4 linked regions of the Homo sapiens genome follow. The protein of the gene in region 4 purifies or fractionates together with the protein of the main gene of each other region. This does not show direct contact. Each region holds a gene or a part of one and is shown on either strand. Other genes may lie near its edges. The genes, in order: PTPN5, CAD, SATB2 and TBX19.

Region 1 (5,931 bases), on a different chromosome or scaffold from region 4:
CTAACACAAAGACCCATATTTGCAGGACAAGATGCTATCATCTCCAGTAAACTGACAGATTCCCAAAAAGAGAAGGCAGTGGGGAGGGAGAAATTATTTATAGACATATAAATGCTTCGGGCACCTAATCAGTTGTTGAAATGGATCTACAGGTGGAGATGGGAAAACTGGCTGGACCATGTGAGGGGCTAGGTGACATGCAGGCTCAGTCTTAGAATCACAGGATCTCTGGACCCCCAGTCCAGATTCCATCTGCAGCCACAGGTCTGTCACCTGTCATATGTAGAAGGTAGAAACTCAGGTCATCTCAAGGGGAAAAAAGAAAAACAAAAACTAGAAACTCTTTTCTCTTTTAAGCAGTGTTATCACCAAAAGGCTCTTCCTTATCTTAGGGGATTGTGGAAAATAAGATTCCCCCTATTCTAGGCCGGGTGCGGTGGCTCACGCCTGTAATCCCAGCACTTTGAGAGGCCGAGGTGGGCGGATCATGAGGTCAGGAGATCGAGACTATCCTGGCTAACATGGTGAAATCCCGTGTCTACTAAAAATACAAAAAATTAGCCAGGCGCCGTGGCAGGCGCCTGTAGTCCCAGCTACTCAGGAGGCTGAGGCAGGAGAATGGCATGAACCCAGGAGGCGGAGCTTGCAGTGAGCCGAGATAGAGCCACTGCAGTACAGCCTGGGCGAAAGAGCGAGACTCCGTCTCAAAGAAAAAAAAAAAAAAATAGATTCCCCCCATTCTTTAACATCATCTCCATCTTTTCTGCATCTGGTGAGATGTGGAACGAGCATCATGGCCACCGGTGTCTGGCAAAACTCAGTAATTTCCAAACTCTTAGACTGAGAAAAGCTTTTCCCACTGTGCTGCAGCACATGGAACAGAAGCCACCCTCCTTCCTTTGTCCCCATTGAAGCAAGCGTGACTCAAGTTTCTATACCTGGGGTGTAGCATGTTGGATGGGGAGGGGATCCCCTCACACCAGATGCGGGAGATCCACTGTTTGCAGATTTGTAAGGGAACAAGCATCATGGGAATTCCTAACTTTGGGCTAATGTAAGGGATAAACTGTTCACAGCCAAATTTCCTGGTTAGTCCAGTAGCAAAATAAAGACCCTAAATTGCCCTCCTTTTTTGTGGTGAGGTAGTTGGTTGGAGTCATTAGAGAGACACACCAAGTCCTGAAGTGTCTTTCTGAAGAGTCGACATGAAACAGCCCCTCGCCTCCCATTCCTCTGCAAGCCTTTCGGGAGGGATTTGTGGGCCTCAATGGTGGCAGCATATGGGCATCTGGAATCAATTCTGAAGATTCTTGCAAAACTAACAATGTGTGTATTTCATCATCTGCCTAAAGATGTTGTCTGGTATAAATTATAAATTACAGTTGTGAAAATAACCATACTCCATGCTAGAGAACAAACGTAAGATGAACCATCATTTTATATGCCCTATTCTATGTTTTCTGTAAATCTGTATTTTGTAATAGTTGAAATTAGTCCACATATAGGTTTATAGCCTGCATTTTTCACTTAACATTTTGTCATGACTTCTCTGTTTATACTTGGTTGGCTGACCCCTGCTTTATTTAACTATGTCTTTATTGTTGCACATAGTCAATAATGAGCATCTCCAGGCACATAGCTTTTCCATCTCAGAGTCTCAAAGCATCCATCTGAAGCACCCTCAAGAGATATGATGGGATCAAGGTGGTTAAAGAGGGGTGCAAGGAAAAGAACATGTCGTGGCCCTGGCGTCTGGAGTAGAAAAAGAACAGGGAGCTTGGTGCAGTGGCTCATGCCTGTAATCCCAGCACTTTGGGAGGCTGAGGCAGGGGATCATTTGGGGTCAGGAGTTTGAGACCAGCCTGGCCAACACGGTGAAACTCTGTCCCTAGTAAAAATATAAAAATTAGCCAGGCATGGTGGCGCACACCTGCAGCCCCTCCTACTCAGGAGGCTGAGGCATGAGAATTGCTTGAACCCAGGAGGCAGAGGTTGCAGTGAGCCAAGATAGCGCCGCTGCACTCCAGCCTGGGTGACAGAGTGAGACCCTGTCTCAAAAAGAAAAAAAGAAAAAGAACAGGGAACCCAAGAGTTGGAACCAAGGAGAGGATGGAGAGGAAGATAGATCATGGGCCAGGGGGTCAAGGTCACAGAGCCCTAGGGGTGGCAGAGGGACATGCAGCTCTGTCAGATTTCAGAGGGAAGTCTGTCCTTCCAGTGTTTTGTTTGTTTGGTGTGGGAGGCTTTTATTAAATTGTGGTAAAATACACATAACACGAAATTTACCATTTTAACCAATGTTAACTGTATAATTTTGTGGCGTTAAGTATATTTACAGTGTTATACAACCATCACCACTGTCCATCTCCAGAATCTTTTTATCTTCCCAGACTGAATCGCTGTACTCATTAAATACTAATTCCTCATTCCCATCTCCCCCAGCCTCTGGTGACCTCCGTTCTACTTTCTGTCTCCATAAATTCACCTATTCTAGGTGCCTCGTGTAAGTGGCATCATGTTTGTCTTTTTTTGTCTGGCTTCTTTCACTTAGCCTAATGTTTTCAAGGGTCGTCTCTGTGGTATCATATATCAGAATCTCATTTATTTTCAAAGCTGAATATATTCCATTGTATGGATATACCACATTGTTTGGCCATTCATCTGTTTCCACCTTTTGGCTATTGTGAATAATACGGCTATGAACATTGGTGTGCCAGGATCTGTTTGAGCCCCCGCTTTCAATTCTTTGGGGTATATACCTCGCAGTGGAATTGCTGGATCGTATGATCATTCTGTGTTTCACTTTTTGAGAGGTGCAGGGTGCATTTTTTAAAAAGGATTTTTGTGTGCCCAGTATGAAGACCACTGAGTGAAGTCTTAGGAATAGAGAGTCCAGGAAGAAGCTGTTAATTTAAAAACTAAATGTTGTTTGGGTTCTGCATGGCCATGGAGGTAACAGAGAAGAGAGAAGAGGGAACAGAATACAAATGAGTCTGACTCCGTTTCTGAAGAATTGTTGTGATTTAGAGGCATTGTGGGTGGAAAAAGAAAGCTCTCAGGAGAGATCTTAGTGGGTGGAATTGATTCAAGCATGCAAGTATTTACTGTACCAGGCACTGTGGTGGACACAAGGCCCTCAGCAATCAACACGACCACAAGGACCCTGCCCGCAAGGAGCTTAATGTCTAGTGGAGGTGCCAGAGGAGTCACCTGGCAACAGTGGTCTGTACTGATGCATTCTAGGCTCATCATAAGCACTCACTCTTACTGAGTGCTTACTACATTATCTCAATCTTGGTGACAGTTCAGTGAAGACGGTTTCTGTTATCCTCAATTTGCAGGTGAGGAAACAGAGAGCTTGAGTAACTCTATTTCAGGTACGCACAGCAAGAGTCAGAGCCAGAATTTAAACCTAGGCAGTAACTGTGCTCTGTAGGGCTGTGGGAACACAGGAGAGACACCTGCCCAGGACGGAGGTCAGAGAAGGCTTTCCGAAGGCAGGGGTCAGGTGAGTATTTTCACGCAAGTCAGCTGTGTTCTTCTTTAGCCCATGATGTAAAACAGTGCTTTCCTATAGTAGCAGCAGTAGCGTTCAGCCCTGCTTCCAGGGACTCTAGACACTCAGGGAGACCCCTTCACTGAGACTCCACTTCAGAGGAAGATGATCACTTCTATCATCCTTGCTGCTTATCATGAGGCAGGGAGGCTGGGGGTGAGGCATTGCCATTTCCCACTGCCATCTGCTGCCTCTGCTACTTCCCTAGCTGGTCAGCATCTGAGGTACCTCAGAGGGACCTCCTGGGGCCCCTTCGGGGCAGCATCAGGCCAGTGGGCTAAGAGTTAGGCAAATACGAGGCCTAGGAGTGGCAGTGAAAATCATATATCCACCTTCTGTGCCACATCACTGTCCCAAGATACTCCCACCACCACAGAGCCCTGTCTTACCAAAGTACAGATGTGGCCAAGTCTCTGGTGTTTCCATCCTTCTGTGGCTCCCCATAGCTTGCAGCCGTATTTCTCAACAGGGACCTACTGGCCTTTGGGTGGGAGAGTTCTTTGATGTAAAAGCATCCCTGGCCCCATCTCCTATATATTTGCCTGGAGCACCCTTCAGTCATTATAACAACCAAAAATGCTCACACATGTTCTTCAGGTTTACTTTACAAGCAGTCCAATGTATAGATCTTAAGTGTTCTGTTCAGTGCATTTTGACAACTGCATGAGCTCATATAACCATCACCAAGAGCAAGACTCAGAAGATTTCCATCACCCGCAAAAGTTCAGAGATAACGATTATTCCAATTTCTATCATTGTAGATGGATTTTGTCTGTTCCTAATCGTCATATAAGTGGAATCATATAGTACATGCTCTTTTGTGTCATGAAATAGTTTTTAAGAAGCCAGACGCAGTGGCTCATACCTGTAACCCCAGCACTTTGGAAGGCCAAGACGGGTGGATCATCTGAGGTCAGGAGTTCGAGACCAGCCTAGCCAACATGGTGAAATCCCATCTCTACTAAAAATACAAAAATTAGCTGGGCATGGTGGTACACACCTGTAGTCCCAGCTACTCGGGAGGCTGAGGCAGGAGAATCCCTGGAACCTGGGAGGTGGAGGTTGCAGTGAGCCAAGATCATGCCACTGCACTCAAGCCTGGGTGACAGAACGAGACTCCATCTCCAAAAAAAAAAAAAGACATAGTTTTTGAGATCCATCCACGTTGTCACGTTTTCCCCACTAACCCCCAATACACACACAGATTTCTAAATGCCAACTAGCATGGCAATACCTGCCTCTGTCCCCCTGAGAAAAAATGGCCTGTGAGTCAAAGTTAGTGTGTCTTAGGCTGATTCATGAAGCCGTCTGCTGTGTGACAAGAGTCCCTCTTACGTCTACTCTGTGGCTACACTGAGCTGCCTCGTCTGCCTGGCATACCTTGTGCTTTCACCTCTCCGGGCCTTTGCCCTGCAGTGTTCCCTGCCTGGAATGTCCTCCCTGTATCTGGTGAACTCCTGCTTGTCCTTCGGGTCTCTTCTGTGCAGCTTCCCAGACTCTGTTTTTGTGCCCTCCTGAGTGCTCCCATAAGACAGCCTCAGTGGGCCTTTAATGCATTTCTCACTCAACTCACTAGGCCGAATGCTGGGTGGAGGGCAGGGACTGGCTCTTAGTTATCTGTGTGTCCCCCAAGGCTCAGTACAGAGCCTGATATTAAAGAAATTGATATAAGATTATAGTAAGATTATCTTAGAGACAAACTGGGTTTAAAATACAAAATATATTCTGAACCACCCCCTGGAGCTAATAAAGTTGGAGCTGGGCATGGTGGCTCATGGCTGTAATCCCAGCACCAGGCCGAGGCGGGTGGATCACTTGAGGTCAGGAGTTTGACACCACCCTAGCCAATATGGTGAAACCCCATCTCTACTAAAAATACAGAAACTAGCCAGGTGTGGTGGCAGGCTCCTGTAGTCCCAGCTACTTGGGAGGCTGAGGCAGGAGAATTGATTAAACCCGGGAGGCGGAGGCTGCAGTGAGCCTAGATCGCGCCGCTGCGCTCCAGCCTGGGTGACAGAGGAAGACTCCATCTCAAAAAAAAAAAAAAGTGGTCAAAAAAAGACAGTCTGATCTCTGGCTACAGATGATAAATGTAAACTGACTTCCTGCCAGTGAGGCAGAGACCTCCATCCCTTCCCCAGAGGACCTAGCATCATGGGAAGTGGCATGGATGAGTGCAAAGTAGCGCAGCTCAGGGAGTCAAGGGGGCCGGGGCGGGGCCGGGGGGGTGCGGCAAAGATCAGAGTCAATCTCAGAAGGCTGCCTGGAGGAGGTGAGTTCCAAAGGTTTTCAAAGAGGTCTCTGTGTCAAGCCTAGGAGTTGCATAATCAGAGTGTGAGAGCCCTAAAGCATGATTCAAGGCCACCTGGATCGTG
Region 2 (5,931 bases), on a different chromosome or scaffold from region 4:
CTCCAGAGTATGAGGGTCTCTTCTTAAGTAATGGGCCTGGTGACCCTGCCTCCTATCCCAGTGTCGTATCCACACTGAGCCGTGTTTTATCTGAGCCTAATCCCCGACCTGTCTTTGGGATCTGCCTGGGACACCAGCTATTGGCCTTAGCCATTGGGGCCAAGACTTACAAGATGAGGTGGGACTTGTGGGGAGCAGAAGGGGCCCATACTTGTGGCATGAGGGGTGGGGTGTCTCAGGAATGAGAAGAGAGTTGGTGTTTATTCGTGTTGAAATAGGAGCGGGGGGGTTGCAGGTGAGGTGGCTCCCACCTGTAATCCCAGCACTTTGGGAGGCCAAGGTGGGCGGATCACTGGAGGTCAGGAGTTCGAGACCAGCCTGGCCAACATGGTGAAACTCTGTCTCTACTAAAAATACAAAAGTTGGCCAGCCATGGTGGCGTGCGCCTGTAATCCCAGCTACTCCAGAGGCTGAGGCAGGAGAATCGCTTGAACCTGGGAGGTGGAGGTTGCAGTGAGCGGAGATCGTGCCATTGCCCTCCAGCCCGGGAAACAGAGGGAGACTCCGTCTCAAAAAAAAAAAAAAAACAAAAAGGAAACAGGAGTGAGGCTACTGAGAACAGGAGATCGGTGAGAGCTGGGGTAGGTTCAGTAGTGAAGAGAGGGTGAGCAGGGCCTGTGACTCGGCATGCTTCTACCTCCAGATATGGGAACCGAGGCCATAACCAGCCCTGCTTGTTGGTGGGCTCTGGGCGCTGCTTTCTGACATCCCAGAACCATGGGTTTGCTGTGGAGACAGACTCACTGCCAGCAGACTGGGCTCCTCTCTTCACCAACGCCAATGATGGTTCCAATGAAGGCATTGTGCACAACAGCTTGCCTTTCTTCAGGTGAGCCTGGTTGACTGGGTCTGTGAAAATTTGAAGCCCTGTGGGCCTTGATGATGGAAAAGTAAAGCACGGCAGTGGATCCGAGTCCCCTGTCCCACTACCCACCTCGAGGCTGCCAGTGTCATGCCAGGGACCATGATGGTTTTCATGATGCAATCTCTTCAATAGTGTCCAGTTTCACCCAGAGCACCAAGCTGGCCCTTCAGATATGGAACTGCTTTTCGATATCTTTCTGGAAACTGTGAAAGAGGCCACAGCTGGGAACCCTGGGGGCCAGACAGGTAAGATCCTGAGTAGAACTGGGTTGTGGACCTAAGAACAGGGTTGGCTCCAGGATGGGCATAAGGTGGACATGCCCTGGGCAACTCCTAGATGTCTAGGAGGTTAAGGGTATTGGGGATGGGTGGCAACCAACCCAAGATACCGTTTAAGCTTCTGTTGAAAGGAACTCCAGGGTCCTGGGTTCTGGTCCTCCCTCTGCTCCTCCTGAGGTGCATAATTTGCTCTGGACTCTTCTGAAAGCGAGGGAGCTAATCCAGTTGACCTCTTGGGTCCAGCTCAGCTCTAACATTCTACGACCTTCTTTGCTTCCACAGTTAGAGAGCGGCTGACTGAGCGCCTCTGTCCCCCTGGGATTCCCACTCCCGGCTCTGGACTTCCACCACCACGAAAGGTTCTGATCCTGGGCTCAGGGGGCCTCTCCATTGGCCAAGCTGGAGAATTTGACTACTCGGGCTCTCAGGTGAGGCATGTTCCTCCCCACCCTTCTGGGCGTGTGACCCTCAAGAATGGAAAGGGTCTTAAGGAGAAGGGCTAAGGTTGCAGGGAGGAAATGAACCAGATTTGGGGAATGTAGAGAAAGATGTAGTAAGAAATAGAAGTCAATTATTAGGGGCCAAGAGTACAGGGAGGGAAAGAAGAGGAGAATGCTACTCTAAGGCTGTTTGCAATTTTGCTTCTTCAGCAGAGGCTGAGATGCCATTCTTGTCCTTTTAGGCAATTAAGGCCCTGAAGGAGGAAAACATCCAGACGTTGCTGATCAACCCCAATATTGCCACAGTGCAGACCTCCCAGGGGCTGGCCGACAAGGTCTATTTTCTTCCCATAACACCTCATTATGTAACCCAGGTATGACTGGGGCAAGGCTGGAATGAAAAGAGGACTGGGCAGGGGGGCCCAGTGGTCACTGTGGGTTATTAAACTTTGATTGCCTCTCTACCCACAAGGTTCTGATGCCTGTAACTCCCCTCTCCATCCTCAGGTGATACGTAATGAACGCCCCGATGGTGTGTTACTGACTTTTGGGGGCCAGACTGCTCTGAACTGTGGTGTGGAGCTGACCAAGGCCGGGGTGCTGGCTCGGTATGGGGTCCGGGTCCTGGGCACACCAGTGGAGACCATTGAGCTGACCGAGGATCGACGGGCCTTTGCTGCCAGAATGGCAGAGATCGGAGAGCATGTGGCCCCGAGCGAGGCAGCAAATTCTCTTGAACAGGTTGGAGGGGTGTTTGGGTAAAGGAAGAATGGTGGTGTTTTTTTTGGTAGTGTTATTTTCTTTTTTTTTTTTTTTTTTTTGAGACGGAGTTTCGCTCTTGTTGCGCAGGCTGGAGTACAGTGGCGTGATCTCGGCTCATCATAACCTCCACCTCCCAGATTCAAGCGACTCTCCTGCCTCAGCTTCCTGAGTAGCTGGGATTACTGGCATGCGCCACCATGCCCAGCTAATTTTGTATTTTTAGTAGAGACGGGGTTTCTCCATGTTGGTCAGGCTGATCTCGAACTCCTGACCTCAGGTGATCCACCCCCCCGACCCTCGGCCTCCCAAATTGCTGGGGTTACAGGCGTGAGCCACTATGCCCAGCCATGTTATTTTCTTTATATCTTTTTTTATGTGGGACAGGCACACCTTGGACAGTAGGAAATAACCTGTTTGTTCATCTCTTCCACTCATTGCAGGCCCAGGCAGCCGCTGAACGGCTGGGGTACCCTGTGCTAGTGCGTGCAGCCTTTGCCCTGGGTGGCCTGGGCTCTGGCTTTGCCTCTAACAGGGAGGAGCTCTCTGCTCTCGTGGCCCCAGCTTTTGCCCATACCAGCCAAGTGCTAGTAGACAAGTCTCTGAAGGGATGGAAGGAGATTGAGTACGAGGTGGTGAGAGACGCCTATGGCAACTGTGTCACGGTGAGTGAATGGGGGAAGGGTGGGCGTCGTGTCAGGCAGGATGAGCTTTTGGAAGAGCAGAGGCCCAGGCCAAGGTCTTTGAGAGTTGTATGTCCCTCAGACCCAGGTTAGGTGCAGCCCCAGAGGTAACAGGACCCTGGGGTGCAGCCTTCTGCCTCTCCTGACTCTGCTTGGCAGTGACCTCCATGGCACCCCCCTTCACAGGTGTGTAACATGGAGAACTTGGACCCACTGGGCATCCACACTGGTGAGTCCATAGTGGTGGCCCCTAGCCAGACACTGAATGACAGGGAGTATCAGCTCCTGAGGCAGACAGCTATCAAGGTGACCCAGCACCTGGGAATTGTTGGGGAGTGCAATGTGCAGTATGCCTTGAACCCTGAGTCTGAGCAGGTAAGCTCTAGGCCCTGGAACTGATAGTCTAGTTGTTACCCCCTCTTCTTGTATAATTTTTGGCCCTTGAGGTTGAGGTCTTTTGGGCTTACAGTCCCTGGAGTACAAGCTGGAATCTTCTTTACTAGGTTACTTTTCTCTCCTTTCTGAGACCTCTCCTAGACAGGGTCTTCTAGGCCAGTGACTTTATTCTCCTTCTTTGCAGTATTACATCATTGAAGTGAATGCCAGGCTCTCTCGCAGCTCTGCCCTGGCCAGTAAGGCCACAGGTTATCCACTGGCTTATGTGGCAGCCAAGCTAGCATTGGGCATCCCTTTGCCTGAGCTCAGGTACGAGGATGAGGGAGATATCACAGTGGGGAAGTGGGTCGGGGGCTGAGGAAAATATTGATGGGACAGGGAATATGAAAAGGACATTGGCCTGGATTTGTGGGAATGGAAAGAGCTATCCGGAAGCTCACCCTTTATGCTTCCTTCACTGTCCTTCTGGCATCCCACCTGCTGGACCCCAGGAACTCTGTGACAGGGGGTACAGCAGCCTTTGAACCCAGCGTGGATTATTGTGTGGTGAAGATTCCTCGATGGGACCTTAGCAAGTTCCTGCGAGTCAGCACAAAGATTGGGAGCTGCATGAAGAGCGTTGGTGAGACTCATGCCCTGGGCACCCCCATGGGGCCCCACCATGACCAAGAATCTTAAATGTCAAGAGTTCCCTGGCATGGCCTTTTACGTCCTATGGGAGCAGGTGCTTGAGACATTTCAAACTAAGATTATAGTCCTTGTCAGGAGTTGGGGAGGCATCTGGAAATCTGTGTTGGAATACAGAATCTCTGGGATAGGTGCAAGCCATCAGACTATCTCATCTCATTTTTGCAGTATCTCCTCCTCTGGCACTTTGTGCTTTGGTCACTAAATGACCTTTTTTTTTAGTATGATGTTTACATCAGAGCAGGGCATCATAAACCTTTTTGGTAACAAGGAAATTTATTAGTGAATGATGAATGGCCGTAACGTTACCCAGCAGTGGCAGAGCATGTTAGAATTGAGTTAGTATGTTTCTTTGTGGTATCCCTTTAGTTGCCGAAGACCGTCCTCTAACACATTTCAACCAAAACAAAAATATACGTGTACCAGACACAGCGCCACCAGCCTGATGGATAAGAGCATTTTGTGGTGCTCCAGATTTCCATTTAGAGCAGTAGTGGCCTTTAAACAAGTAAGTCTAAGCTCAGATATTATTTCAGAATTTTTAGAAATTCTGCAAGACTGCCAATTTTTTCCTTCTGGAGATGAATCTCTGTTATATGAAAATTAGAATAAACATGGGAATGAAGCCATAATTAAATTGTGGCAAAAAGAAGTGGATTGAAAATAGGCCAATGAAAGATTGGTTCCTAGATGAGACATTTAATTGTTTTACATCTGTTCAAGTATTCTTGGAATGTGGTCTTCTTTGGTAACTTTTTGTAACTTTTATTATACAAGTAAGAAACATGAATCATGGAAAACGAGGAAAGATAGTTTAACCAAAGAACAGTAGTCACCTGTAATCTTGCCTTACAGAGATTGATTAATTCGACCGTGTATCTGCGACTGCATAATTCAGCCGTGTATCTACGACTGCATACATTTCTAGGCATATGTGTATGCATGTATTAGGCTTCTCCTTTTTTAACAAATCTCAAAATAAAAAGTCTTACAACCACAGTTACAAAGAAATTGAACAAAATCAGTCACACTACTGTTAACATCGTAGTGTTTTTAAAACTTTTTTAAAGAAATGTAAATGTTAGGATTGTAAATAGAAAAATACACTTGGTAAGAAATACTTAAGCCCCTAGAGTAAATAGTCAGAGGAGATGAACAACACTTTACAGAAGAAGAAATCAATAAGCAAACCTAGAGAAAAGACGGTTCCTCTCATTAGTAAATAGAAATCTAGTTAAATGAGACTCTGTTTATGCCCACTTCTTAGAAGGTTGCTTAAACTTTGTATTATGAAGCACAGACTTCTATAAAGTTATTCGTACTCATCAAGGGCTATAAAATTTGTGTTACCTATTGCCTCTACATATCTGGAAATTTATCCTAAGGAGATTATCCAAAACAGAAAACATCATATCCAGTCCAGGCACGGTGGTTGTAATTAATCCCAGCACTTTGGAAAGCTCAGGTGGGAGGATCGCTTGAGCCCACGAGTTCAAGGTTGCAGTGAGCTGTGATTGTACCACTGCATTCCAGTCTGGGTGCCAGGCTAAGACCCTGTCTTTTTTGTTTGTTTGTTTGTTTGAGACGGATTTTCATTCTTGTTGCCCAGGCTGGAGTGCAATGGTGTGATCTCGGCTCACCACAATCTCTGCCTCCTGGGTTCAAGTGATTCTCCTGTCTCAGCCTCCAGAGTAACTGGGATTACAGGCATGTGCCATCACGCCTGGCTAATTTTGTATTTTAATAGAGACAGGGTTTCTCCC
Region 3 (5,931 bases), on a different chromosome or scaffold from region 4:
CAGGTGTGTGCTTATCTCAGGACTTGCTCCGTATAGGTAAAAAGCGGGTATTCAAGGGGTTCTTTCGCCCGGCCTTTGGCTCCTGCCTGGCCATTCACAGCGCATTTACCGGGTGGTTAATTCGGTTATGGACTTGCGCACACCCCCAACTCCCTTCCCATGTGGGTGGAACGTCTTTTTCTGAAGTTCACTTATTCCGCAACCCTGACCCCGGGACGGGCTAGGCTGTAGCACCCAGGAACGGTTTATGCCAACCCCGTCCCAATGAATGGACCACTTCTAGGCGCCCCTGGGTGCCAACCCCGGCCGCGACCCCGAGGGCTGACTTCTGGGGAGCTGCGACTGGGCAGAGTCGCCGAACCGAGGCGCTGGGCTTCCTGGGGGCCGCCCAGTGTAAGGTTGGGACCGGCTTCCCGGCTCGGGCCCCTCGGGCAGCGTGGGAGGAAGTTTGTGTGGCTGTGGTGCAGCGCTCTGCCACTGGCCTGAACGTCTATCACGTGTATGAGCGGTTTTCCCTCTTTTTTCTCCCTCCCCCTTCCTCCCCCCACCCCCTCCCTAGGTCCCTGTGCGTTTTATTGCGACCTGCCGGTGGGAACTTTGTCTCCGAGTCGGAGCAGCATGGAGCGGCGGAGCGAGAGCCCGTGTCTGCGGGACAGCCCCGACCGGCGGAGCGGCAGCCCGGACGTCAAGGGGCCTCCCCCAGTGAAGGTGGCCCGGCTGGAGCAGAACGGCAGCCCCATGGGAGCCCGCGGGAGGCCCAACGGCGCCGTGGCCAAGGCCGTGGGAGGTAACAGCCCGGAGCAGGGAGGCGCGCAGCCCGCGGCCCAGTGATAATGGCCCGGGTGTCAGGGTTCAGGTTGATTAGGCGCTGTCGCGGTGTAGGATTACAGGAAGTGAATTCCAGGTTGCCAAATAATGCCCCCGTCGCCTCTCATCTGCAACTGGTAGCTTCATCTCCAGTTAAAACAAGAAAGTGGTTTTACCCAGAGGGTGGCATTTTTTGGGCATTTTGCCACTGTGTGCTGAGGTGTTGGCAGGTTTATGTCACAGCCAGCTAACTGTTTCTAGATTTTCCTAGAGAGCTTTTTAGTGATTTAACTCTTTTGCCTTGCCTCGGAGTGTCTGTTGTAGGGATGAAGTTCACGTGCGTTCGCTTTTAGGGAATAAAATAGTCATTAATGCTCAGGCGAGTACAGGAACAAGGAGAGTTGATGTTACTTTGTAGTGAGGACAGTGCTTCAAGACAGATGAATGACAACTGGGAATATTTCCTGCCACGTGAAATGTGGGAAATAAAGAATCACCATGAATCCATCAGGCCCTTAGAAGCTTAAATGCTGCTGTTGTCTATAAAGTTTAGTCATATGCATTCGTAACTTTATTATGAATTATAGGAGAACAGATAAAAATAGCAAAGTAGCCTTATCAACTAGATGTAGTTTCCCCTCCAAAGAATTTATTAATAATTTTATTTAAAGAAAATCTTTTGTAGTTTTTACTACTTAAGCAACTACTTTCTTTTAAAGTGGTCAGGAAAAGCAATCATACAAAATAAAGATATGGGAGAAATTTAAACATTGAAATATTTTGGAGTTTGTATGCCATTTGCTTAGTTGTCTTTTACATGTAAAATCCACAATTCCACATGGCATGCAGGTTTTCTGTGTGTTTGGCATAAATCACTAGTTTAATTTTTTTTGCCTCTAACGTTTTTTCTCTAATAATTTCAACAGTAGCCCATTTAATATTCAATATATTAACTTGTCTTAAATGATATAAAACCTTGGCAAACCTTAATGATAAGCTCCCACCCCCTTGTTGTAAGTGTCTATTGTGTGTATTTCAAAATAGTTACTTACATCTAAAAATGTTCATTCCTCCTTAAAGAGTTGAACACATACGTTTTATAAAATCGTATTTTTTTCTTTTTACTTATTTTGCTATTTCTATTTCTTCATGGTAAATACTTAGGATGGTTTGTCTCAGTCTTTCATATTAATCGTCTCACTTGAGAAGTATTCATCCTTTCAATGTTGTGAGTTAAAAAGTTTGGTGATGGATTCTGGCTTGTTTATCTCCCCTTTTTGGGACTTGAAAATATACTTTATTGAAGCAAAAGAAAACAGTTCTGTGACCCACTTTTTAAAAGAGAGGTTTATTAATTTGTTGTCCTGATACTGGAGCAAATAATGTCAGACTTTTGGCATAATCAGTTAGTATATGCATATAAGAAATAAAAATTCATAGAGTATGATGGTACCAATTATGAGATATGCTAAGTGCTGAAAATGTTTGAAAAAGTTCTGAAACTCCTTGGAGACAGTGTGTTCCAAAGTGGCCTTTGTGGACAGAAAAGGCTTGGACTTAAAATTTTGGTATCTTTCTGAAGATCTAATAAAATTCACTAAATTGAAAGGAGCTGTAAACATTTTAGAATGTAATTGTTAACAACGTGCTTCCCTAAAACAAGTTTTTTCCCCTCCTCTATATCATGTTGAACTATGAAAGAAAGTGCCTTGTTCTGTTGACCAGGGATAACTTTAGTGTTAAATAGTGGTTGGTTTTCAAATTTTCTGAGACTATAGTTCACATTTGAGCCCTTATGTGTTTAATATAAACTAAAATTATTATCTTGGTGAAGAATAATAGATTTGTTTCAACCAGCTGCCTTAGACACTTTCTCTTGATTAACTTAATTTAGTAATAGCAGAGGTCTTATTAGCTGCTTCCCAAATTGAAAATAAAGATGACATTATTTTGTCTCAATACATATCGTTTATAATACACGATAGTAAACTGGTTAAAATTGTTTAGTGGAATTTAAATTTTTTTAAAAAAGACAGCATAATAGTGTGTAAAGAGATTAATTTAGACAACTTTAGAATATAACAACTTAGAAGATAAGATTTTGATAGTACAAAGGTTTCTAATTGAATGTTAACAAAATTATGAGTTTAAGTTTATATAATTTCCAAATGTATGTTAAGATGTTAATAGTTTCTTTGTAACTGTTAACCATGTATACAGTTTGGAGCAAAGCCAGGCCTTTTGAAAAATGCACATTCTAAATTTTAAAAAATGTTTAAAATACATTTCTAGTTAGTTTTTTTATAATTAAAGGATTTTTTTGAACATAGAGTAAATATAAAGTAGATTATATTTCTACCATTCTATGTTCTTTTGTTTAAATTTTCTTTATAAAGCAATATAATAAGCATAGATAACTACACAAGTATTTATAGCTCTGTATCATTTATTACCGTTTTCAGATATATTGCAGTCTTTTCAATGGTGTAATGATGGATACAATAAAATTTGTCTTAAAAGTGGAGCCAAAAATTTGGGAGTACATATTTGTTAATCTTTAGTGTTCCTCTTTCTTAAAAGCTGTTCTTTTAAAAATAAGGGAGATCAAGTTAATTGGTTGTCAAATCAAATAGCAATTTATCTTACTGTTTTTGATAAGCAGTGAGGTAAATATAGTTTAAATATACTTCTGAATGCATTGGTTGCAGTAATAAATTCTGCTGTTACTCTACTTATTTAGGTAGAGGGAATTTACTGTGTTTTTTGATGAGAACTAAGTATTCATAAAAGAAGGGGCATTACTTTAGTGTCTCAATTTAAATAGAAGAGAGGGTAGATACACTGTCACTGTCTTTAAGGTTGTGTTTTAACAGGGGACTTAAAAGTGGATTGTTTACTATGTGGTTAGCTTTAGAAGACTGTTAGAAACTAGATGTTTTGCTTTGTCTTTCCAACACTTTCTGGGATGTTTTTACTCTTATCTGAGCAGTGTGTTTTAAAGCATGTATGTAATAAAATGTAAGTGCTCAGATGTGTATGTCAGTCAGCTTTTACAGACGGTCCTTAGGAAAAAAAAAAGGCTAATATCTCTTTAAAAAACATATGAAGGCTAGGAGAGAGTTTAGAGCTAGCAAGAGCACCATGGTGTTGACAGCTTTATATCCCTGCTGGGTAACATTCACTTACTAGAATTGGCGTCCCCTCTCAGCTAGTAATTCACTCCATAAGGATTTTGAAAAAGGATGATTAATGGTGGGGAAATTTATATTTGTGAAATTGTTGATTAAAACTTACAGATCTATTTGAAGATTTAGGAAAAGAAGGGATTATTAAGGATGATGAAAATAAGAATCAGATGATCCTTTTTACCACTATTAGCATAAGTACCTAAAATGTTCTGCTGTATGGAATGCTTCAGCCATGCAACTTACAGCATAAAATGAAAGTGATGCCAATCAAGTTTCCAGAGGAAGCAAGGCATTCTGCTTTTCTCCTGGACTGCTGAAAGGTGCTGGCCAGTTGTGCTTTAATAGCAATAAATTATTGTGCTTCATTCATTGTTAACACAAGCATTTTCATTTTTTAATGTTTGGCTTAAAGAAGAACTTTCAGACAGCTTTATTTAAACTGAATGAACAGCGCTTGAATATACCAGATGGTGTATTTGCTGATAGGAGACATTAAACATCAGAAATCTTTTTGATATTTTTCATTTTCCTATGAATTTTTATGATTTTTTGGTGTTAAATGTTCTACATTTTAGGGAAAAATATTTAAACATTGAAAATATCTTTTAGAGAGATTTGCTTTTTTTATTAAAAAAACTTGCTTATTTCTGAAAAATAATTTATGTTTTATAAATAACAATTTAATTTTGTTGGCATACTGTCTGTTAAAGTTATCTTATAACTAGTCTACCTGAAGTAGACCTATTCGTGCTACCAGGCAGCCCTTTCAAGAACATAACTGTCTTGTTGCAAGGGGGAAAAAAATCATTATGCAGTACACACTGATGTATTCAAATAGGGAAGCAAATGTGATCAAGATTGTTAGTCAGGGCCTCATTTAAAGCTGAACATTGTCTACAACAACAGTTAGTTTAATTGTCTACATGTGGAACACTTCCTTTTAGATGAAAAGAAATGCAGTTCGGGTCAGGTGTAGTCACCATATCAGCAACAGTAGAGAGACATTTAACTTTTTGAAAGGAATGCAGATATGAAAGTATAGATAGGTATATATTGAGATTATAAAATACTTAGAAATATATTGTTAACATGGGCAAAATGGAGAAAACTCCATTCCCAAGGATGAATATCATAATATTTGTAGGAAGTACACATTACTTCAAAAGAGAAAAGATTGTATTTCTCCCTCCTCACTTTTTTTTTTTTTTTTTAAGGTTTTAAGATCTTTTAAATAGAATGAACTTAGGCTTTGGGGTCATCCAACAATCTAGCCTGTCCTCTGTAGTTTTGCTGAGGTAGAAAAATAACTCTTCTCTAAAGTGTTTTTAGTTCTTGGCCTGTTATTAAAATAAAGATATACTTGGTTAAAAAAATATATGCAGTGGAACATACACATTAAACAGAACATAGGGTATCCGCCCCTCAAAGTCCTGAGCATAATTTGATGTTTCAAGTAATTTTGGAAGCCTTATGTTCCATCAGAAGAAACCCACTGACCATTGTATACTCAAGATCATCTGTAGTGCAGTGTGTGTGTGTGTGTGTGTGTGTGTGTGTGTGTGTGTGTGTTGGAACTACATAGATGTCCCTTAAGGCATCTGTTTTTTAACCCCTGCAGAAAATAAGCAATATCATCCTTTCCCAGAGGGTTGTAACCAGCAAAGTCTGTACATATGAGATATCCTGTTTGAATTCTTCTTTTCTTTCTTGAATTTTGTTTTAACCAATCTATCTCTGTAGAGAAGGGAAAACAGACTAATCATCATTTATTAGATAGCTAAGAATATGAATTTGAGTCATTTTAAGTATACGGAAATCAGTTTTATTCCAGGAAAGACTACAGTAATTATTTGGTATATCTGACAAAGTAGTAAGCAGTGAAGTTTGATGGTTATAATTTAAAACCCCTATTTTTCTTTCTTTTTAAAAAGTATTT
Region 4 (5,481 bases):
GTAGGGGACACTTTCCAATAGGCCAGGCTTCAGGGAGAGTTAGAATCTCTACCATCTGGCTAAAAGTATTGCATAACTCTTCTATTCAGGTGGGATTTCAGTTTCTCTTAAATTTCATGAAATAGTCCAGAAAACCTGAAAGGCACCATTTTTGTTTTATAGTGAGTTGAGTAGAGAAGATACATGAGCAAGGAAATGGTATACAAAACTCCAAAGTTTGTCTAACACATTACAGAAGCTAATCTGTCACTTACTAAACTGACTTATGTAACTAGTGTTGTTTCTTCTGATCAGAAATTAGCCCTAGACTATTTAAAGAAAAAAATAGAAAGTGTCTCTGGCTAGATAGCTAACAGCAAATAGAGATCCTATTTGTGGAACCAGCTATCATGGTGTGTGTGTTTAAGAATCACAGCAGGTTCCAAGCTGAGTATCCTACAAGACGGAGAGACGTGATCACCCCAAACTCAGCTAATGCTCATGTTATCATGCTGCAGAGGACCCCATTCACCTGAGCAATATAAATGAAAATATAATGGAGGCTACGAGCTTCTTTCTGTTCTGTGTCCCTGGGCCAGGTCTTCTGTCTGCTCCAGGCTAGGGGAAGTGCAGGAAGGGTGAGACTCAAGGTGGGTTTTTATTCCCTAATTACACTTGCTGAGCTCTTGGTACAGGACATGTGAAGGACTTGGTGCCAAGACTTGCTGCAGTGACCAGTAAAGAGGCCTTGGTCAGACCTGCTGTGGCAATTACAGGCCACAGTAGCCTAAAGTTCTAGCAGATTGAGAAATGACCATCTGTTATAACTTACCAAAGTACTGTCTTGCAGAGATACTAATATATTAATACCTTAGTGACCTCTAATGGTATTGTAAAGGGACTGGGAAACAGGAACAATGCTGCCTTAGGGGCATGCTGACCAGACAGCTTTCCAAATGCATGGATCCATTGTGCCTTGGCCACTCACACGCCAACTAGTGGCCCAGAGCGCTGGCCAGGCAACCTGAAGTCAGGCAATGAGTCTTCCCTGGACACCACGTAGCTGGAGTAGTATTGTTTCCTGAGATCCAAAAAACAGAACAGCACAGAAATATTGGGCAGTGACACCAGTTGTGACACCATAGCATGTTAAAGGACCTTTCGCTATAGAAAGAGCCAAGGACTCAATAGTACCATGTTTGGACCCCTCAGACTAAGCCTTGGAGTGGGCTGGGTTTGCACGGGTTCAGCTGATGGAATAGTGGTGGAAGCAGCTGAGCCAATGCTAGGCTCCAAGTGGAACTTTAGACTCCTCAAGTGGCGGCCCTGAGAAGGGCTGCTCAGCCAGTGCAGTCTAAAGTCAATGTTTGGAGAACTGCTCATCACCCAGGTCTGGAAACCTCACTCCCAAGGTTATTAGCACATCCAGTAGTAGGTAGAAAAAGAGGAGGAAGACTCACGAAACTGATTCTGCTCACGGGTTATAGCAATGACCTTGGCTGGGGCAGAGGTAAAAACTCATCTGAAATAAGGTTCCTGGAGTATTTATCATCCTGTTTCTCTCTTCTAGGCAAGGAGTTTCCAAACCTAGCCCAGGGCCAATGCCTGGAGCTCTTGTTTGAAATGCAGATTCCTGAACGCCAGCCCCAAAGATTCTGATCCAACAGGTACGGGGTATACCCACGAATCTGTATGTCTAGCAAGGGTCCCCTGTTCCAGGTGATCCTGACTTAGGGGATCCAAGAACCAGTATTTGGGAATAACCACTCTAACACACCCTGTCTCCATATATGATTGTCATTCACTGACAATTGGTGGTGCCTCAGATGAGAAGCCCGTGTAACTAACAGCCAGCATGTTCCTAGGCTCCCACACGGATGCACCTATGTGTCATGGGGCATGTGTCTCTGAGATCTGCCCCCCAGCCACTTCACACCGTCCTTGTAGCACACATGCACATTACACCAATTCAGTTCAGCAAATGTTTATTGGGCACCTACAATAGGCAAGGCACAGTACCAGCTGCTGTGGGTTACAAAGACAAGAAGGCTAGGCCTCACCCTCGAGAGGCTTACAGTCTAATAGGGAGAGACACACTCACAGGTAACAAAAATACAAGGCAAAATGAGGTGAGCTCTATGGCAGAGGCAAAAACAACGGGAGAACAGCGAGCAGAGATAGATCAGACATATCTCAGCAGATCAGATGTTGGATGCAGGGAGTGACGTTTCAGCCAGGCTCTGGGAGGTGGGTCGGATTCGCACAGGTGAACTGGAAAAAAGAGGACACTAAGGCACAGGCAAGGTATAGAGGTGGGAAAGTGCAATGAATGTTCAGAGAACAGAGATGCCTGCCTTGACCAATACATAGGAGGCCAACAGGATAACAGAGGGACCTAAGCTGGGGAAGTGGTTTCAGGCCAGATGGTGTGATCGCTCGTAGTAGGATTTCTTTCTTTCTTTCTTTCTTTCTTTTTTTTCAAATGAAACAAAGCCTTGATCTACCACCCAGGCTGGAGTGCAATGCCACAATCATAATTCACTGCAGCCTCAACCTCCTGAGATCAAGCGATCCTCCTCTAAGTAGTTGGGACTATAGGCACAGGCCACCATGCCCAGCTAATTTTGTGTGCATGACTATTTTTTGTAGAGACAGGCTCTCACTTTGTTGCACAAGCTGGTCTCGAACTCCTGACCTCAAGCGATCCTCTTACCTTGGCCTCCAAAAGGGCTGAGATTATAGGCTTAAACTACCACACCCAGTTATAGTGAGGAGAATTGACTTCATTCCACTGGTAATGGTGAACCATTGAAGGTTTCTGAGCAGAGGAGTGACATGACTTCATTTCCACAAGTCTGGGCACACTGCTGTTTGTAATACATGATTAGCTTTATTCTTTTTGTTAACCTTACTCTATGGCTTACACCCCATCCTGGTCTCAAAGCAGAAGTGTGAACCTGAGCCCTGTGGCCACACATACTTTCCAGGCTTCACAAAGCAGGAAGCAGTGGCCTTAGCTAGGTAAACTCTGAGCTCATTTAACAGCTTTGCACCTTCTCCACAGAAAAGGAAGTGAGGCTTTCCAGAACGATTTGAGAATAAGAGGCAGGGCACAAGGATGGTACTTAACAAACTTCTGTCACCTAAGCATGGCAAGAATAAGCTGCAGAGAAAATGGGAGTGCAGAAGAAAATGGTGGAGAGATGCAAATGATCTAACTAGCATCATCCAAACTGAACCCTCTCCCAGTATGACTTCTGTAATAACCCACCTCCACCTCCAGCTAGTGGGAAGGGAGATTCCACAGTCTGACTCACTAGATCAGTTGATGGGGTTTCTAAGCACTCTACACATGGAAGGATCGCTGTGCAAAGAGGCTCCTAGGATCCTGCTTAACCATCCAGTGAGGAAGGAGAATGGTGCCCACCCGCTCCTGGGCCACCCCAGCCCGCGAAGGGATGCGAGGCCACTGCTGTCCAGGTGGACACAGCAATGCTGGTTAGCGAGGGCTCCCCCAGAACCTCCACACCAGCCGAAGTGGGTGCTTGGGTGGAGAGCACAGAAGGGGGTGAAGTCACAGCTGGGTTTCCGAGGAGAAATGCTCCTGGGGTGCTGGCGTGCACCTCCGGGCCTGGCCCACTGGGGCCTCCGGCACCATTGCTGATGGTCCACAGGCACGGGTAGGGGCTGCAGAGACAGAGAAAGAGGGGAAGGGAATGTTCACTGGCACTCCAAGGAAGGAGTGCCACCTGACAAGCATGTACACAGTGCTGAGAAGGGCATGGTTACAGGAGGGCTTCTGGCCATGGCTTTATTTCTAGCTATGACGCAGATTGGTCCTGTTTCTGCAGAAAAGCTAAGAGAAGCAGCAAAGTATGGTGGAATAATGATAAGATTAAGTATTCTGGTACTGGCCCGGCCACCAGCGAATTATTTGGTTTTAGACACAGAATTTCATTTATCTGGGCTCCCTTGCAGCCTATGTAAAATTGGCAGGGCAGTAGAAAAAAAGGTATTAAAACTGTATGATTTCTGCATATGATCTCTCCCTGGCCAATGTGGCATAATAACCAGGAAACATCACTGTCAGAAGACTTAAGTTTAAATCCCAGCTCTACCACTTAATTAGCTCTGTGGCCTTGGCTAGATTATTTAATATCTCTGAGTGTCAATTTCTCATCTTCAAGATGTGGATTCATAATTTTACCTACCTTACAGAGATTGCTACAAGGATTAAATAAGAGGAGTATATGGTCCTTAGCATGTAGTACTCAGTAAATGGTGGTTGTTAACATTAATTCTTCCATTCCTGGTCTCCGCCTGTGAGCTCTGGTGCCTGGCTGAAAGGCTGGGAGCTACAACATTTTCTTTGCCTTCTCTAGTTCTGTAGCACAGGTTCACACACTTGATTGCACATTCGGCACATTGGAATCACTAGGGGGGGTTTTTAAAGTAATATTGGTGCCTGGATCCCACTCTCACCCCACTCCCCTGCCCCAGAGATTCTGATTGAACTGATCTGGCATGCAGCCTGAGTACGAGGATTTTTTTAAGTTTCCCAGGTGACTGTAATGTACAGCCAAGCTTGCACCTTAATATAGATGCAGTTGGAACAGGTGCAATGAACCCAATGTTTTCGGCCTGTAGTCATCACTATGTTTCTTACATTTTAGAGTTTCTGCATTGCCCAACACTGTATTGCTTGATAATATGCTTATTATCCAATGGCAATATTGAATACATTTGTTTTGTTTTGTTTCTAACAAAATATTTATGGAGTCAGGAATGAGTTAAACACACCAACAGGGAAGCCAGAGTTGGCAATGCCATCCTTCACCTGGTGCCATTTTTCAATGCTACAGGCCTCTTTGGACCATATGAAACCTTCAGCAGCCCATCCTCTGAGCTCTCTCTGAGCTAGCTCAGCTTATGGGGATTCTGGCCCCAATCTTCAGAAGATGCTCTTCTACATTATCTCTTACAGACCCTTTCTGATGCCTCCTGGGCCAGTGGGAGAACCATGGGCTCTGAGAGGTACTGCTTACTGCAGAACCTTCAGGAAGTTTTTAAGGCCTCTGAGCTTCAGTTTCTTCATCAGCAAAATAGGAATTTTAATACCTGCCTTATAGTTGTCTTTGAGTACTACAGATGACTTATATATGGATGACTTATATATATGTAAGTATCTAGTATACAACTTGGCACATGATTGTTTAATATCTTCAGGGAACCTCATCTTCACTCTCTTTCTCACTTCCTACCACAGCCCAAATCAATGTTTTTCCCTCAGATCCTCTAGATCAGTGTCAAATGCAAATGATCCTCTAGATCAGCGTCAAAATGCAAACCATAAATGCCAACTACATGTGTAAGTTTAAATTTTCTAGTAGCCACATTTAGAAAAAAATTAATTTATTAATATTTTATTTAACAAAAATATTCAAAATATTATTTCAACATGCATTTGATGTAAATATATATATTTATATGTATATATTTACA

What was found.
Region 1: the proteins of TBX19 (region 4) and PTPN5 purify together in Homo sapiens (affinity purification with mass spectrometry; one large-scale study listed by BioGRID and IntAct). This does not show direct contact.
Region 2: the proteins of TBX19 (region 4) and CAD purify together in Homo sapiens (affinity purification with mass spectrometry; one large-scale study listed by BioGRID and IntAct). This does not show direct contact.
Region 3: the proteins of TBX19 (region 4) and SATB2 purify together in Homo sapiens (affinity purification with mass spectrometry; one large-scale study listed by BioGRID and IntAct). This does not show direct contact.

The regions. Positions count from the first base shown.
Region 1 is NC_000011.10:18,780,996-18,786,926, reverse strand, and holds part of PTPN5 (tyrosine-protein phosphatase non-receptor type 5), read left to right. Parts: intron 1-5,931. UniProt on the Homo sapiens protein: May regulate the activity of several effector molecules involved in synaptic plasticity and neuronal cell survival, including MAPKs, Src family kinases and NMDA receptors.
Region 2 is NC_000002.12:27,222,860-27,228,790, forward strand, and holds part of CAD (multifunctional protein CAD), read left to right. Parts: intron 1-6; coding exon 7-178; intron 179-703; coding exon 704-889; intron 890-1,057; coding exon 1,058-1,170; intron 1,171-1,485; coding exon 1,486-1,631; intron 1,632-1,885; coding exon 1,886-2,017; intron 2,018-2,150; coding exon 2,151-2,384; intron 2,385-2,845; coding exon 2,846-3,067; intron 3,068-3,271; coding exon 3,272-3,460; intron 3,461-3,665; coding exon 3,666-3,790; intron 3,791-3,972; coding exon 3,973-4,103; intron 4,104-5,931. UniProt on the Homo sapiens protein: Multifunctional protein that encodes the first 3 enzymatic activities of the de novo pyrimidine pathway: carbamoylphosphate synthetase (CPSase; EC 6.3.5.5), aspartate transcarbamylase (ATCase; EC 2.1.3.2) and dihydroorotase (DHOase; EC 3.5.2.3).
Region 3 is NC_000002.12:199,450,725-199,456,655, reverse strand, and holds part of SATB2 (DNA-binding protein SATB2), read left to right. Parts: intron 1-559; 5' UTR 560-618; coding exon 619-787; intron 788-5,931. UniProt on the Homo sapiens protein: Binds to DNA, at nuclear matrix- or scaffold-associated regions. Thought to recognize the sugar-phosphate structure of double-stranded DNA.
Region 4 is NC_000001.11:168,310,893-168,316,373, reverse strand, and holds the end of TBX19 (T-box transcription factor TBX19), read right to left. Parts: intron 3,667-5,481; coding exon 3,372-3,666; 3' UTR 1,948-3,371; downstream 1-1,947. UniProt on the Homo sapiens protein: Transcriptional regulator involved in developmental processes. Can activate POMC gene expression and repress the alpha glycoprotein subunit and thyroid-stimulating hormone beta promoters.